Linked DNA regions of Homo sapiens. The protein of the gene in region 3 purifies or fractionates together with the protein of the main gene of each other region. This does not show direct contact. Each region holds a gene or a part of one and is shown on either strand. Other genes may lie near its edges.

Region 1 (5,072 bases), on a different chromosome or scaffold from region 3:
TCTGCCCCCACTTTATCAAGCACCCTCCCCGATCTGCACAGAATATCAAACTTCCCTGCCTTTTCCAACCTCTTGGCAACTACTCTTGCTTTGCCTCAGGACCTAGATCTTATATATTTGAAGATAGAGACTCCTAATTTTGCACATTGGATTTATTTTGTCCTACATATTTTTTTTTCTAATAGAGATAACAGCCCCTTTTAACCTCAACAAATACACAAATTTCACTCAATACCCACCACCCATCTCTCTCTCTCTCTCTTTCTCCCCCTCCCTCCCCCCCCCCAGAACCTAATAACTGGGTCTCAGCCCTAATAAAATTTTCACTGTGAAAATTTTACTCTAAATAATTAATGGATTTGTTTTATAGAACATCTTCACCTAATATTTTGTTGTATCCACATTAGCAACACAGTTCCAGGACCAGCTATCTATTGTTGTTATGTGGGATTAATTTGGCTTATTAACAAACTTATTCTTCCTCCTTCCATCTTGGTCTCTCCCTTTGTTATCCTATTATTTTCTGTCTTCAGCCAAATCCCTAACTGGGTCTTTAAAAGAATTTCTCATTTTTCCAACTAAATAAAATATGTGGGCTTCTAACTCTTCATGTTCCATCAACATGTGAAAATATCAAAATCCAACAATTAGCAGTATTAGACAAGTAATAAAAATTAGATATATCGCTTTAAACCTGAAGAACAAAAATTATTGACTTTATATATGTATGTATATATGTAAGTCTGTTTGTATTTGACCCCAAACTATACTTTAAGATTCAAATCAAAGTTTTAAGTCTCCCAAACACAGACACTTTTAAAAAGGCTTTTGCATTTCTTGTACATTATCAATTCGAAACAGGTTAACGACTGAAATCCAGCTTTTCTCATTTTTCAGGACACTTGTCAAAACATGTTAAACACACACACAAAACAAAATAGATTTTAAAAATTTAATGTATTATTACATTCATTTCCAGTAGAATACATTCACGGCACTATCACATCTACTATTCTTTTGAACTGGCCATTCCTTCTATTTACATAGCTTTTCACCTCTCAGAGGTTGGCAATTTAAGAGTTGTTATTAAAATAATAATTTACCTAGATGCTGATTTTTTCCCAAGTAAGGATTAAATATCCAAAACAAAATGTATAACTACACTTGTTGATACTTTATATTCTACTTTCCTATTTTAACATTATGAAAACCTGGAATTTTACAATGTAATCTTAGAATCTGCAAGTATTAAAAGTACATTTAGAGTAAAACTGAATTTCAAGATGCTCTATTTCATAATAATCAAGGTACATTATTTTCCATATACTTATGTAGCTCGAATTTTATTATGTATCTAAATGTCCTCTGTCAGTTTTAATTTGGTTTAAATTCTTGATACCAATAAGCCTTCATCAATTCCTAAGAAAATCACTGCTCATTAGTAAAATAAAGTTTTATCTGACAGTTATCTTTTATTTAAGTTAAATAAATGTTAAGTATCTAAAATTTTAATTAACAATATTTGGTAAATTAAATTTATTCTTATCATTCCTTCTTTTAATTTTGTCTATATATATTTTTAGTAATAGCTTCTAGTTCCTTTTACAGGGAGAATCGTCCTCTGCATTATATAGTACAGACTGTTGTAATTAGTTATGTAACTTTCACTAATTAGGTAAATTCACCTTTCACAATTTCTTTTTCCTTATCTATAAAATAAGGAAAGCTAATTTCATATATTATCCTTAAGGTCTCTTGTAGCTCTAGCATACATTAGTAAAGATGCAAATTATACAAATTTTGATATTCATAAACTATAATAGCTATTAAATCAATTTCAAAATAGCCTTTCAAAATGTGACTTTCTATGTTGCAAAATTGTGAACTACTATGTTTTGCTTTCTCTAGAATCTTACTGATTCAGCTCTAAAATATACTTACTTTGTCAAGGCTTCTTAGAATGTGTTGAAATAAGGTCAAAGCCAAGATATATTTGAGCATAATAAATAGTATTGGTAATGATTATACAATTTTTTGTTAACACAGATACATCACTCATCACAAAATGAAATAAAGCCAATGTTTTAAATTAAATATGTAAATCTGCCTGGGACTTATTTAATATCCGACCTTTGAGGAGAATTCCTTTCAAGTTTAATTTCAGTGCAAAAGCAGAGAATCTTGGTTTGTCTTAATAACAGCTTTAGGTATAAGTAACATATAAGTAGATATGTTAATTAATTTTAGGTCTAAAAGAGAGGTCCCAGATATAATAGTATGCTTTTCTCCTTCCATGAGGGTGTGGTATTGAGATCACTATTAAATTATTAAATTAGAAAATTCTTAACACTGGTCAAATTAGACGAGTGGCGACACTATAACACCTCCACTGCTAGAACAATGGAACCCCCAGGAAAGAGCAAGTGGGACTACAATGGGGAGATGAACAAAAACCATATATTGACAACTTAAAGGTAACAAAAGGACTAAAAAATCAATGCCAGCTAACTCAAGCTAATACAAGCTAAAAATTCATTAAAATTACTTTGATTCATTTCTCAAATCAGGAACTTTCTTCATCATCAGTTTAATGCTTACAAGAGGCACTGAAATTTATGCACATTTCTAGAACATCTTTCCAACATGATGTCTCTTATTAGAAAAATGGTTTTGTGAGATAAAACTGTGAAGGAAGAAAAGAAACCAAGAGAGAAAAAGTTCAGAGAAGACTGACCCAAATTTAACATAATCTGAGGCAATATTGTAAAAATGTGTAAAAATATGAATTTGTGATTAAGACAGAACACTTTGAAAATATTTCGAAAACCCAACATCGTATTTTGTGTTGTGACACTCTCAAGAGTACTGAATAATCTCTAATATCACTTGAGGAATGAGTGTTATTAGAAATTATTAAATAATACTCAAAGCTTAGTTCTTAGATTTAGAGATTAGGATTTATTCTAATCCAGTGTTTGATTAATTGATGTGCAATAGCTCGGCTTGGTGGCACAAAGAATGCCTGCTGCTTCCCTTTGGTCAGAACATCCAGGACCTAAAACACACCATAATAGAATGCATTAGGATTTCAAAGCTGTCATATTTAAATACTATTCCCATGTTTACATAATTCAATTAAAATGTGATGAGTTTTACAGTGAATAACAACAGTAGAAAGTGACAACATCCATATTTACATGCAAAGTTTTTTTTTTTTTGGAAACAAGGTCTTGCACTCTGCCACCCAGACTGGAGTTGCAGTGGTGGGATCATGGCTCATTGCAGCTTTGACTTCCTGGGCTCAGGCGATCCTCCTGCCACAGCCTCCCAAGTAGCTGGTACCATAGGTGCACCTGGCTAACTTTTTAAAAATTATCTGTAGAGACAGGGTCTCCCTATGTTGCCCAGGCTAGTCTCAAACTCCTGGGCTCAATCAAGCTTCCTGCCTTGGCCTTCCAAAGTTCTGGGATTACAGGTATAAGCCACCACGCCCCGCCTCAACATGCAAAATTTAGGACAGCATTTTTAATTGCTTCACTGAGTAAGTGATTCAGTTTCTAAAATGTTCCAGAAAGACACATTCCCTTATGAAAATGACATCACGAAAAAGCAAAATGTACGCTCCACACTTAATTTCTAAGCAAAGCCAACTTTTGAAACAGATTCTTTTTTATAAAATTCATAAGCAATAATCTAATTTCCATCTTTTAGGATTAAGCATAGAATAAAATTAATTTTATGCAGGCAAAGTCAGAAAGAATTTCAGGTCAGATGAGTAATTTATCTTTTAATATATTATTTAGGAATGACATTTTAGAAAGTTATTTTAAGTGTATGTTTATTATACAGTTATGTCATTCTTGTCCTTAAGTACATTTTAAAATGAATAAAAACTTTCTGAAAATTTTAAGCACTTACTGATGTTTTTTGAGAGCTACTTGTTTTAATGTTATAAACTAAAATATAAAATGTATAAGAATATTCCTGTTTCTCATCTATGAATTAATGTTTTTCTAAACCCACTGATAGGTATTATTATTTATGTGAAGGAATGGAATCTGAAACTCGAAATGGTACAGAATCATCTCTACTAGAAAAATCTCATAGAATAAGTTAATATAGATCACATTAGTGAAACATACTCCTCCTGTATGGAATTACTAATTACCATGTAATCCATGCATAATGAGAGGGCCAAAGGCATCATTCAACTTGCTGAAAATATGCATCCTTGCTCTGTGACCAAACCAATACAGTCAGGGAACAATCAATAGAAGAAGGAAATTAAATTGAACTTTACCTGTTCTCTAGTGAACCAGCGGGCATCCTCTATTTCATTCTTGTCAACTTTAATTTCTGTAGACACTGCTAGAGCTAAGCAACCAATCATTAAGGAGGAAGGCATTGGCCATGGTTGACAAGCAACATACTGAACATGGCCAACTTTGACTCCACTTTCCTCTTCTACTTCTCTCCTAACAGCATCTTCTATTGTCTCTCCTAATGAAATGGAGCAAAAGAACAAGTTGCTGATGAACATGCCCGGGACACTTTGTGTCCTGAATGGTTCAAACATCTGGAAATCACTTTGGACAGAAACCCAATGCAAATAATCAGAAAGCAGAAGCCTAAAACTAGACTGTAATTGAAGAAAACAATTTTTTTAAAGTACATGACCACATATAGAATATCAAAATGCCAACAATAAACTTTTCGTTTTTTTAAGGTACAAATTTGTCAGTTACATTTTAAAAATAATGATACCATCTAAAAATATCCAATACCTAATACTGGTTAAACACTATGCAAACACTTTATATCTTATCTCATGTATATATTGTCCACGAAATAGTTATAAATTACATGATTTTTACAAATAGCTCTTTCACACTAAAATTCTGAAACTTTTTTTTATTATGTTGTCAAACAATTATTGCAGGTAACTCTTTTCAGGTCATTACAAGATTACAAACTACATAAGATGAAATTTAATACTTTTTCTAAGCAATTATTTTCCTCTAGATGACTGCTGACTCTGCTATGGTAAGTGATGCCTATAAATGTACTTTATA
Region 2 (7,806 bases), about 59 Mb from region 3:
TTTGTTTCCTACAGAGTTTTACCTTCTAGGCCTAGCCCACTGAAAGCATCATACAATCATTTCTGGTGTACTTCATCTTCTTTTGTCATCTTAGGTATATACTATTTTTAATGGTACTTTCTGAGCTCCTGAATGTAGTGTCGCAGCTGTGTTTGCTTTAAATTATATTCCTTTAAATTTTCTGTTAAAGACAAAATATGTATTTCCCATGGCAAAACCAAAAAATAAATGTCATAGGCAGTAAAACAATGACCAATAGTGAAATGCAACCTAAATGCTAAGGTTTCAGATCTTTAAAGTGATACCAGCCATTATTTCGTCAGTATTTCAGGAAATATAATTTTTATAACATTCTTTTAAACATTAATTTACAGTTTCAGTTTGGAAAAATGAAAAGATTCCAGAGACGGATAGTGGTGATGGCTGCACAACAATGTGAATGTATTTAATGCCTGCCACTAACCTGTACACTTAAAAATGGTTAAAAATGGTAAATTCTGTATACGCTACCACAATAAAAAATCCATTCTAGTAGTTCATAAATAAAATACGCGTAATTTAAAATTAATTTATTATAAAAAAATTTTTAAATTTCGTTTATCAATTTGTAACAGAAACACCAGGAACCTTGCTCCAAAGGAATAAGGGACGCATTTTGGCTTGGAAAGGTTTACTGCACCTCAAGCATATTTAACCAACTAGAAACAGCAATAACAGAGTCTGTCAAGTCATCAGCACCTGATGTCAATTCTCAGATCCGTAATGTGCCACCTTAATAAAAGTGTGTTTTGGCTGTAATAACTGCTAAATGAATGAACTGTGTCCTGAACATGTGAGATGTTTCACTTTTAAAAATAGCCTCCATTTTAATAATTTGGAAAGCAATAAAACAAAATGCATGATCATATTACATGTATAAGCTACTTACATTCAAGCTCAGAATAACTCTAATAATTATGATTAATATCATTAAAGATCTAAGATATCAAAGTGAATTGCAAAACGTTTCCATCTAGGATTTAGCATGAACCTGATGAATACTTGAGATTTGCTGTACTATTTTTAACTAAACTTTCTGGCCTTAGGTCAAAGTTTTGCTAGCAAAATACCAAAGTGAAAATGCTGGGAGTGCAGCCCAGAGTCTCCGCTTTAGCCTAGGAAAAGCTATGCCATCCATGCAAGCAATCTTACTCCCGATTAAAGACTTTCAAAGACTGCTCCCATTAAAACATAGGAACAACACATTAACCCGAAAAACAGTAAAACATCAAACACATGTGACACAATATAGCACATCATTCATTACTTTCTGTACACTGTGCAGAAAGACACTATATAGCTAAAGTCAGTTCCTGCATTTTGACCAAACAGGACTGAGTCACTCTGCAAACGATGCCTGAAACCTCAAAGGATAACCAACCGCCTCTGACCAAAAGCCAGTCCGTCCGTCCCTGGAAAGGGAGGAGGCAGTTTTTCTCATCATACAGTAAGGTTTATTCCAGGAGGGAATAGAACTAAACATCTGCATTCCAGCACAGAATGTCTAACGGATCTAAGGACCTCCCACCCTAGTTCTAGTCTTCCAGAGTCAATTTAATACACAGAGTATCGTTTTCACCTTTCTTCCCCTCCCCAGGGTAAAAGTCCACACCCCCTTTTCCCATAAATGCATCTACACTGCACACTACTCAAATTGCGAAATACAATCATCTATCCTAACAAAAATAAGAAATAAGCCAGCATTCTACGGTGCATTTCTATTTTGTAAAACATGCTCCTTTCTTAACCAAGAGCCAATTAGCAGCCTTTACGGTGCTATTAATCTGGATTTCAAAGGTCGTTATAGGAAAGAGACGCAATGAAGAGGACAGATTTATTCCACTCCACAATTCAGACTGATTTTTTGGCTCTGGCGCAATAATCTCAGGGAATTAAATTTACAGCAATTAAAATGCACTAAATAGCAAGTATGGAATGCTCAAACGCAAGTGAAAACAGCAAAACTTTAGCTGTGTGTTCCAAGATTTCAGACTAAAAGGAGAGAGTGAGGGCGGCTCTTTGTCATGTACCCCAGTGAGTACTCGCAACAGGGACAGCATCAGGTTTCTTTCTCCCTCGCTCGCACCAAGTCCCCACGTAGCATGACACTTTCAAATCAGCTAACCTGGTGTATGAAGCATGGCCAGTCCTCCACCCACCTCCCCAGAGTGGGCAGGCGGAAGGAGAAGAGGGGTGTTTTCCTCCCAGTGCTGCAAGAAAGGAGCAGCCGGGGATGACACTGGCTCCAGCAGGAGGTAGAGGGAGGAATCAAAGGCGGGTCACTACTCTTGGAACTCGGTGACAGAATCGTTTGGTCTCCGGCCCCGGCTGCCGGAAGCAGGGCGGGGTGGGGCAAGACCTCCCCCTCCCCACGGGCGGACGGGCACGGAGGGCTGGGCGGAGAGGGGATCTGAGGTGTGAGCTGCAACGAGCAAGCTCCCAGGCCCCGGCCACCTACCAGCAAGCTCTCCACGTTGATGGGGGAGCGAGGGTCTCGGATCAGCGCCTCCAGCTTCCTCTGGCGGCTCGCGCCTGCCCCGTCCCCCGGCGCGGTCTCGGGGGCGCCGGGCATTTTCCCCGTCGGCGGGGGCCGGCTCATGCCGCCACCGCTGGACCCGCACTCAGGCTCCTCGCGCTCAGGTCCCGCAGCCTCGGGGCCTAGCACCGCCCCCGAACCACCAGCTCCGGCCGGGACTCCACCCGGGCCCACCGCCTGCCTCTAGCTCCGGCTTCGGGTCTCCAAGGCGGTCCCCCGCCTGGGGGCTGCTCCCAGGGGCCCGCCCGGCCCAGCCCGGCCCAGCCCGGCCCGGCCCTGCCGGGAGCGGCGGGGAACAGACGGCGTCCCCGCCCCTCAGTCAGATTCGCGCCGCCGGTCCGCTGGTCCTCAGCGAGTGCCCGCAGGAGTCCTCGGGCGGGAGCAGGGAAGTGGCGCCGCCACCGCCGCGGCCCGGACCGCCCCGCCCTCTGGGGCCCCGGGAGGCTGAAGCCCAGGCCTGGGCCACTACGGCCGCCGCCGGCCCGCTGCCATGGTCGCCGCCGGCCGCCTTGCAGTCCCTCAGCCAGCTCCCGGCGCACACACTCCCGCGCGGCCGCCCGTCTCCGGCCGCGCGCCGCCGCTACCCACAAGCCCCTCCGCCCGCAGCCGCCGGCGCGCGTCCCCGCCGGCCCTGCGCGCGCTCCGCCCCGCCCCGCCCCGCGCACCGCGCTTCCTCCCTTTCTTTCCCTTCCTGCGTCTGTCCCGCTCCGCTTTCTCCTCTGCGCCCCTTCCTCGCCCGCCCTCGCCTCCTCCCCCTGGCGAGGTTCTCTGAGGCGAATAGCCGGGCGCGCGGTCACGGCCGAGCTCCTGCTGGGGGAGGGGAGACGCACCCAGGCCGGGTCCTTCCGCGCGCCCCCTGCCCCTCCCGCCGGACCCCGCGGACTACCCCGCGGCCCCGAGGCGGAACCCCAGACGCCGGGCCCAGCGCACCGTGCGCTGGGGGGGAGCCCGGCCGCGCCCCCCGCCGCGGCCCCCGCTGACTCAGCGCGCAGCTATGCGGGCCTCGCCTCACCCGCGCCCAAATAATAGCGACCGAGCTCGGCGCCCGCGAGGGGCCGCAGGGCCGGGGGTTTCGAGGCGAGCCTGAGAGGGGGCCCTGGGTGTCTGGGATTCCGAATTAGCGGAGGCGGGTGGAATCCTAGTCCTGGGGCAGGAGGGCCTGGGATCCTGAAAGCGTTTCTGCCCGGCTTAGACACTAACCACTTCAAGAGAACGGGAGAGCACCGGAAAAAGGCTTTCCAGCCGCAGGCCTTCGCGGGGTCTTCTCCTTTTGGGGGGCGGAAGAGGGGTGGTTATCGGGACCGTTCCGCCGCATTCCTGCCCTCTCGGCGGCCGGTGCCATCGCTTAGATCCGCCCAGGGCGCAATCCGAAAATTATGTGCCAAGAGCTATAAAACCGTTCATAGAGCCCCTTTGACCCAGTAAACCCATTTAAGGAAGTACATTTCCAAGGAAATGATCCAAAGGGCGAAGAAGGGGGAGAACTTGCAGAAAGATGTTAACAGCAGGGCTATTCACAATGTTCGTGATGACCAAAACCTGGGAATGGGCCCAGTTGTCCAACAATTGAGTAACCCAAACAGGCGCCTTCACATTAACAGCAAGAATCCTGGCAGGTATGCAGACTGTGTCAAACATGAAATTTTGGCAAGTACATGAGAAGGTATATTAGAAATAAATGAAACAAAAAAAATCGTTTGTACACACTAAAACTATGTAAAATGAGCAGCTATAAGAACCAGAGAATACAGTACTTCTTAAATAAATGGGATTTTTTTCTGTAAAGATACTTAAGAACAAATTAAATTTCAAAAAATGGAAAAACCACTCCGAAAAGCAACAATCTGATATCCATTAAGTAATAAGAATGTTAAGAACTGTCTCCCTGGCATGTCAGAGATAAACCCGAAGATAGGGTGAAGCCCCAGCCCTGTAAAAGTTGCATTTTGATCCAAACCATTGGATTAGTTGGAGCCTCTTCTTTGGTTTTAGGTTAGTTAAAACCACCCCTAGCTGGACTCATGCAGGAAGAGGCCCCGATGATCCATCCAATGCAGCTTTTCCCTTTCAGATAGTAACACTGACTTCACATCCAGAGAGTCCTTTAAGTCTGTGTATTGAGCTACTCATTCAGACCTCCACAGAGGCCACCAGGAGAACAGAGGGAGCTAGACACTCCCACTTATGCATTGGAGCAAAATAATGAGATAATCTATGATTATGGATTATTTTTCTGATGACAAAATAATATGCAAGGCAAAAGGAGCACTCTGTCTAGCGGGGCGTGGTGGCCTGTGCCTGTAGTCCCAGCTCCCCCTGAGGCTGAGTTGGAGGCCTCCTCCATTGAGCCCAGGAGGCCAAGGCTGCAGTGAGCTGTGATCACACCGCTGCACTCCAGCCTGGGCAACAGAGTGAGATTGTCTCAAAAAAAAAAAAAAAAAAACACTGTGGTTCTCAGTTTCCAAATTAATTTTGACTGGTTGTATATTTGTATGTAGCTTGGTGGAATAACAGGAAGCCATGGTCCAAATACCGAACATGAAAACCTTATTTTAAGAGTAGTGATCAACAAGATATATATCCTGGGCATGTTCTACATATACTTATTTATATAGACCAGAAAAAGCCATGGTACAGAAGATTTTTACCCAAGACCTATCCCATTGTCTACCTGGAAGAAGAGAAAATGAATCTGTTGATATGAGTTAAACCTTTTTGCAGGATGGGGTAAGGGTAAGGAGGAGGTTAGTACAACAATTCTTGTTTTCAAAAGTAATGCACAAATGCATTCTTGTAAAAGTTCAAACGAACCAGAAATATATGGAACATAATCTAAAATTTACTGTTCTGACTATATTTCCACATACATTCTTATATCACTCAAGGCCTTTGGCCATTCTCATACATATGTATTATAGATACATGTTACCTTTTCCCCACAGACATGAAATTATACCATATCATGGTGTTTGGCAACTTGGTTTTTTCCCTTCATTACTAATATGTCCTAGAGGCGTGTCCATGTCTATAGGCAGAGATCTGCTTCATTCCGCTTACCTGCTGTCCTCTACTCCCCAGTTTGGATGTGCCACACTGTAATTATTCTCTATTCGAGAGCATAGTGGTTAAGAAACAATTGCCAAAATCCTGCCCCAAACACACACTTGCCATGTGACCCTGAGCAAGTTACCTAACTCCTCTGTGTCTCGGGGTCCTCACAATATTTGTTATAAAGTGCTTAGAAATGTGCTGGCCCTCAATCAATGCTAGATATTATTAATATTTTCTCACTGTTAAAATGATCCATTGACATCCTCGTATCCTCATATTTGAATAGTATAGATTCCTAAAAGTGGAATTGTCATAACAAAGGGTAGGCATACTGTAAATACAGATGCTGCCAACCTGTTATTTATTTATTTATTGGAGGCAGGTTTACATTCTGTCCTTCAGGCTGGAGTGCAGTGGCACGAGAGATCTTGGCTCACTGCAACCTCCACCTCTAGGGCTCCAGCAGTCCTCCCACTTCAGCCTCCTGAGTAGCTGGAACTGCAAGCACACAACACCATGCCTGGCTAATTTTTGTATTTTTTGTAGAGACAGGATTTTGCCTTGTTGCCCAGGCTGTTCTCTAAGTCCTGAGCTCAAGCGATCCACTCACCTCAGCCTCCCAAAGTGCTGGGATTACAGGGGTGAGTCACAGAGCCGGGCCTCAACCTGGCCTTTAAAAAGACGCTACCCGTTTACATTCTCAGCGTGAGTAGAAGAAACTGCCCATGTCCCTTCACCTTTCCCAGTATTCAATATTATATTTTTAATTGTTGTCAATAAAATGGGCAAAAAACGCCATCTTGTTCTGACTTGTATTCCCTTAATTACTACTGAAGATAGGCATTTTGTCTATCTATTTCTTCTGCAATTACCTGTTTATATCTTTTATCCATTAGTTTTGTCTCTTTTTATTATTTATAAGAGCTCCTTATGTATTTTGGATATTCCTTTTTGTTATATTATAATAGAATATATTAAAATATGTTACAGTTTGTGAAGATTTTTTTCCAGTCTGTTGCTTGTCATTCAGTTTTGTTTTTTACCTGTTATGCGGTCAAATCGGTTGATATTGTCCTCTACAGCTTCTGGGTTCTGTATCTGTGTTAAGGAGGATTTCCAACCCAGTTTTTAGGTCACACAGAATACTGGAATTGCAACAGGTTATGAGGAAATGGCAGTTTCCTAATATTCTCAGCTCAGCTCATCCCAAATTAGCTGTGGAAGGGGGTTCCCTGGGCTTGCTGGTCTCCAAGGGAACTCCTGCTGTGACTCCTGTTGCCACGCGACTCGGGCCAGGGTTGACTGCTCCTTTCTAACAGAGTCCCCAGTGTGTCCTGAGCACAGTTGAGACAGGCAGGAACTTGGACAGAAACTTTTGTTCAATAGTAAGGAAGAACAATGGAAAAATAAACACGGAAAATACAGGGCATTTAACCAGGCTGGCCTATCAATGGATAAGGCTTGGATTGCACCATAACTGTTCATAGCTTGCTCTGCAGAACTTAGAAACTCCACTCCGTTTCATATGAATTTCTTTTCTCTGTCTCTTCATTCCCAATGGTCTATTTGACATCCACTACCCAGCAATGCCTTCCTAGCCCTCCTGATGCTTCCTCACCCAGACTGAGGGTCCAGGCCTCCTTCTTTTCTCTGAGATCCATCTCCTCAAGTTTCAGTTTTTTATTTGAGGAATCTGCCTCTTCCTCAAGAATTAATTCACCTTTCAGATGCAACTTTACCCTCTCCACCCATAGCTAGTGCTGGAAAAGGACCATTTTTGTCTTTTGACCATGTGGCTTTTGTAATTACTCTTTTAATTATAACTATTATTTTAAGGACTAACTATGTGCTAGGCAGCACGCTTTATAGAGATTATCTTAATTCTTGAAACAGCCTTTTGCTTACGGTAATATTACTATGCCCATTTTACAGGTGATGTAATGAGGACTCATATATATGCACATGGAGTGAATAAATGAATTAAGGAATGGATGGGTGAAAACAACGAACTGTGAATGGTCCAGCCATCACCAATAAGACACGTAACAACTTTTCCCATCTCGCTTCACGCTGCCAGGCAACGCAGGCTGGCATTGTTGTAGTGAGTTGCTTCTGTTCCACACAAGCCAGGATTTAATAACAGAATAAAGGAATGAACTCGCAATACAAAGGTGTCATTA
Region 3 (4,554 bases):
GAGGGGCTCTACCCTTGGATACAGGCAGTCTGTGGAAAGCAGACGTGCCCATAACAGTGGGCCTGAGAGTAATGACGGGGACTGCTCTTGTGCTCAGGGCACCCGGCAGTGAGCAGCAGTGGAAAGAGCCAGGGCTTGGTTACCTACAAGACCTTAGCTGAACTTGGGCTTTACCACATATTAACCTGTGGCCCAAGAAAAGTCTCCTTACTTCATCTGTAAAGTAAGTAGTAATAACAGAATCACCCTCTGGGTTTTATGGGGGCTCAGTGGGTGCGATGCATGAGATACTTAAACAACACCTGCCACATATGTGTGGATACTCAAGGAATACTGAGCTTCCACAGTAGTTTTTGAATAAAGAGGAGCCAAAGGCTCTCTTTCCTCTTTTCTCTCTTCCTTTTTCCCCACCTAGTCTCTCCATTCTCCTTTCACCCCTTGGGGTGACTTCTTAGCCCTCTCCAAGATTCTCACTCTGGCCTGACACCCTCTTCCATTCCAGCCTATAGATCTGCCGCTGCTGCTGCCCTGCAGGGCCGTCCACATGTGTGTTTGTGCAATGCTCCTCCCCTATCCCAACCCACCTAAACTGAGCTTCCTCCACAGAGCTGTTTCAAATCCACATGGCCATTTCCTTTTCAGGAGAGTCTAGTATTTTATAACCGCCCTTCCCAAATCAGAACACAAGTAGACACATGTTCAGCTTTCCGTGTGTGAGAAATGGCCTCAAGGGTACAATTTTCTTGCGTGGTCCATGTTTCCACAGGGCCCCCTTTCTGACTTCTCCCCTGGGAGCCAGGAGAGCTGAGGAGCCGACAGAGATGGGGCACACACACTGGGAAGCCAAGCACGTTAGATTTACTAGGGTCATGTCTGCAGGTGAGGTAACAGCACACACATACAGAAATTCACGGGCAGAGATGCCACCGCAGCATCACCGTCAGACACCAAAGCAGCAGGAGGGCTCAGGAAGTGGCTTTGGAAAGTTCTCGTGAAAATCAAAGGGCAGCTTTGGTGCTCAGAGATTCAAACAGAAAACTATACAAAACCAACCCATAAATATATATATATATATAATATGTGTATATATATAAAATTGCAAAATAAAAGCCCAAGAAACTAACCACCGATCTGCACGTCAGTGGCTCAAAAAGTGTTAGCATAGAGAAAGGCAAAACCATCTGTGGGGGTGATGCATACTCAAGGGGGCCGGCATTTCAGTAGCAGAAAGAGTATTTACATGGAACCCCTATTTGAAACCTCACAATACTAGGAAAAGCTAAACACAGACAATGTATGTACAAGGGAAGACAGTAAGTACTCTTGCGTGACGATTGTCAGACACAGACATTTCACTGAAACCATCCATAGCTTTAGAGAACACTGCATTCTATCTAGACTGGGTTCCTGCTTGCCTGCACCCCAGCCAGGCGATCTCAGGCTCTGGACCGTATGTTCTCCCCCACCTGGCCTCTTCCCGGAGAGAGCAAACACTAAGATGTTGGTTGCAGCATAAATTGCAGGAATTTAAAGGTGGGGCAGTCCTTGGGTATCAATCAATCACCCACAAAGCAGGACCAACAGGTGTGAGGTGGAGTGGAAGTGTGGGGGTGGGGTTCCCTGAAATATATTCCCATTTTATAATGTGTTTCAAGTGTGGCCACTCTGCCCTTGGTCCAATTGCCATCCTCCTTCTGATTCACGTTAAAAGGGGAGATCTGGCCTTTGGGTTTTTAAACATTATACAAGATAATTTGCTGGGGGAGAGAAGAGTTTAGGGTCTTTCTACAGTTATTCTCCCACCACCCCCCAAACTCTTACGTTTTCTTTAAACTACCTAGAGATAAGCAATTTGCCGATCACAGCTGGCCTCAGTTCGGGACACAGTGGGTGAGGAGAGGAGCCCAGGACCTGACTCTACTAGAAAACTGCCAGTGCTTTCTCACACTGAGCCTCAGACTCCAGCTCTGCCTGAACCCCTTCCCTGCACCAATAATGATCATTTCTCCCCCATCTGCAGGCCCCAATTTCCCATAGCAATGACCCAACTTTTGGGAAAATCTAGAAGGTAAGTGGCACCAAACATCAATATAGCCAAACCTAATATCACCTAAGTATGAACCAATGCGACCCATTGTTTCTGTATACATAAGAACACTCCCAGCTGGAGATTCTTCCTAATTGTTCCTAAGATGAAAAGCCTACATTCTCAAGGGAATTGTCTCTATAAAAATGATGAAAGGTGTTCTCCACTAAGGGACACCCCACTGAAGTCCCCACACTGCTTCCCGGTGAGCGTGGCTGCTCATTGTGAGAGGTAAAGGGATGTTGGGCATTCCTTGGTGACCGAGCTCTACGTGTGGTCTCTCATTTATGACAGAAAGTGTGCCACATCTGAATAGGTTGGTTAGACGGGGCTTCTGGAAGTAATTACACTCCATGTACGCTTTCTTATGTTATGGTGCAAGTGGAAATGTGCACAGATAACCAATGTGCACATTTCATGAGTTTACAGTCACTACAGGCCTCTTACTTCTTGCATTAAACTATCCCTTTCAGAACAGATGTGAAACAGATGATAGGCTGCCTCACTGGCTTTTAGATTGTAGGGTGCCCTGTCCTTTCTGTGGGAGTGGAGAGCTTAAATTTAGCCTCTCCCTCATTTCTTTTCAGACTCTTTGAGTGCTAAGGTCTTAGAGTTCAACTGAGCTCCAGTGATGAGAGAGAATGTAAAAAGACCTGTTTCCTCTATGCTCAGTCAACTGCGACTGTGCCAACCAACTCTAGGGCTTCTGCTGACCTGCATGTGTAAAATGAGTAAGGGGTAAATGTTCTCTCATTTGTTCACTAGTCAAGAACTGATTACCCTTGTCCCAAAACTAGAACATAAAATTCACACAAAAGAAAAAACGTGTCAGCTGGCACAGTGGCTCATTCCTGTAATCCCAGCACTTTGGGAAGCCGAGGCAGGTGGATCACGAGGTCAGGAGTTCAAGACCAGCCTGGCCAACATGGTGAAACCCCGTCTCTACTAAAAATACAAAAATTAGCTGGGCAAGGTGGCGGGCTCCTGTAATTCCAGCTACTTGGGAGGCTGAGACAGAAGAATCGCTTGAAAAACCGGGAGGCAGAGGTTGCAGTGAGCTAAGATTGCACCACTGCACTCCAGCCTGGGCAACAAAGAGCAAAGCTCCGTCTAAAAAAAAAAAAAAAAAAAAAAAAAAAGAAAGAAAAAGAAAAAACATGTCATGCAGACCTATGCGTAGGCTGTGTGTTTACCCTCCACATACCTTCATGGAAAAATTGAAAATTATTTTTAGACTTTCAGAGGCGAATCATGCTGTTGGGCAAATGGTTCTTTCAAATCCATGGCAATCAAAGAAGTGGATTTATAGCATTTTCCCCCACACTAGCAGTAGCCCTGCTACAACAATGCCAAACATCTGAATGACTGTCTTGCCATGTCACCATGAGCAAGTGACGGTATCATCCACAGGGAATGGGATTCAAATTCAGTCTACATGGATCAGTGGCAGAGGGCAGTGCTTTACAGTGGGGTTCTTACTGTAAGAACTTACTGCTCTTCATCCAATTTCCCCCAAGTCCTTTAAAAAGAACTTATCTGTTCACAGAGGAAGAACCCTGTTTTAGTTATAGGAGAGTGGAGGGGGTCAACTGGCCAAAGTAGGACAGTTACTTGGGTTGCATGCAGGCCAGGAGGCTCTTAGGGAGTCCAGATCTGGGCTAGAAGGTGTCTCTTTCTGCAGTTTGGGAGGAAGGTCACATGGTATGGACGGTTCTCTCACACCACTGTTGGGTGCAGCCAACACTACGCAAGGAGCCGTTGGAGCCAAGCCTGTCTCTGCGAAACCACTAATCCTTCTTGTCCTCTCTCCTCCTGCCTGCCTTGCGATGGAAATAAGCTCAGAAACCTCTCCACTTCCCAGCTCAGCCAGCCACAGAGCAGCACATTGGTTCAAATGTTACCCTTTTCTCTGGCACATCCAAGCACAGTAGCTCAACCAGACATGAACCTACTGCCCACCAAATCTGAGCTCTTGAATACACATTTTCTCCAGTCAGATATTGGTCAAAGTTTTCAGCCAACTTTTATCCACAGCCAAAGAAAATGGCCTTTCCTTTCTAATAGCCTGTAGATTTGTTTGGACCACATGTCTGTTTCTGTAGCATTTGGTGCATGTCCTCAAGCCTGGAGCTAAATGTGCCACATTCTGTGCAAGGGAAGAAGAAATGGCAGGATGGCTGGACACCTCTCCCAGCAATTCTACACCAAGACAAAATAAAACTGGAAACATTAGCTCTTTGAATGCTCCCCTCTCCTTGTTGAAAATCCCTCTTAAGGTGCTTTATCCAAAGACTTTTATGGAAATAAATTTTGTGTTGGAAACTCACTATCTGCTGTAGAGGAAACATCGTGTAAAGCAGGCCATCAACTATGTTTTAGTATTGACATTTCAAAAAGGCCTCATAGCTCCCATGCCACCATCCCACGCCCATCCAGTCCACAGTCTCCATTCAGCCACCAAAGGGATT

Evidence for each region.
Region 1: the proteins of ADD2 (region 3) and NUDT12 purify together in Homo sapiens (affinity purification with mass spectrometry; 2 studies listed by BioGRID and IntAct, with this or other methods). This does not show direct contact.
Region 2: the proteins of ADD2 (region 3) and ROCK2 purify together in Homo sapiens (affinity purification with mass spectrometry; 2 studies listed by BioGRID and IntAct, with this or other methods). This does not show direct contact.

Annotation. Positions count from the first base shown.
Region 1 is NC_000005.10:103,547,917-103,552,988, forward strand, and holds the end of NUDT12 (NAD-capped RNA hydrolase NUDT12), read right to left. Parts: intron 4,501-5,072; coding exon 4,301-4,500; intron 3,056-4,300; coding exon 2,945-3,055; 3' UTR 939-2,944; downstream 1-938. UniProt on the Homo sapiens protein: mRNA decapping enzyme that specifically removes the nicotinamide adenine dinucleotide (NAD) cap from a subset of mRNAs by hydrolyzing the diphosphate linkage to produce nicotinamide mononucleotide (NMN) and 5' monophosphate mRNA.
Region 2 is NC_000002.12:11,341,499-11,349,304, forward strand, and holds the start of ROCK2 (rho-associated protein kinase 2), read right to left. Parts: upstream 3,139-7,806; 5' UTR 2,639-3,138; coding exon 2,498-2,638; intron 1-2,497. UniProt on the Homo sapiens protein: Protein kinase which is a key regulator of actin cytoskeleton and cell polarity.
Region 3 is NC_000002.12:70,655,948-70,660,501, forward strand, and holds the end of ADD2 (beta-adducin), read right to left. Parts: 3' UTR 837-4,554; downstream 1-836. UniProt on the Homo sapiens protein: Membrane-cytoskeleton-associated protein that promotes the assembly of the spectrin-actin network. Binds to the erythrocyte membrane receptor SLC2A1/GLUT1 and may therefore provide a link between the spectrin cytoskeleton to the plasma membrane.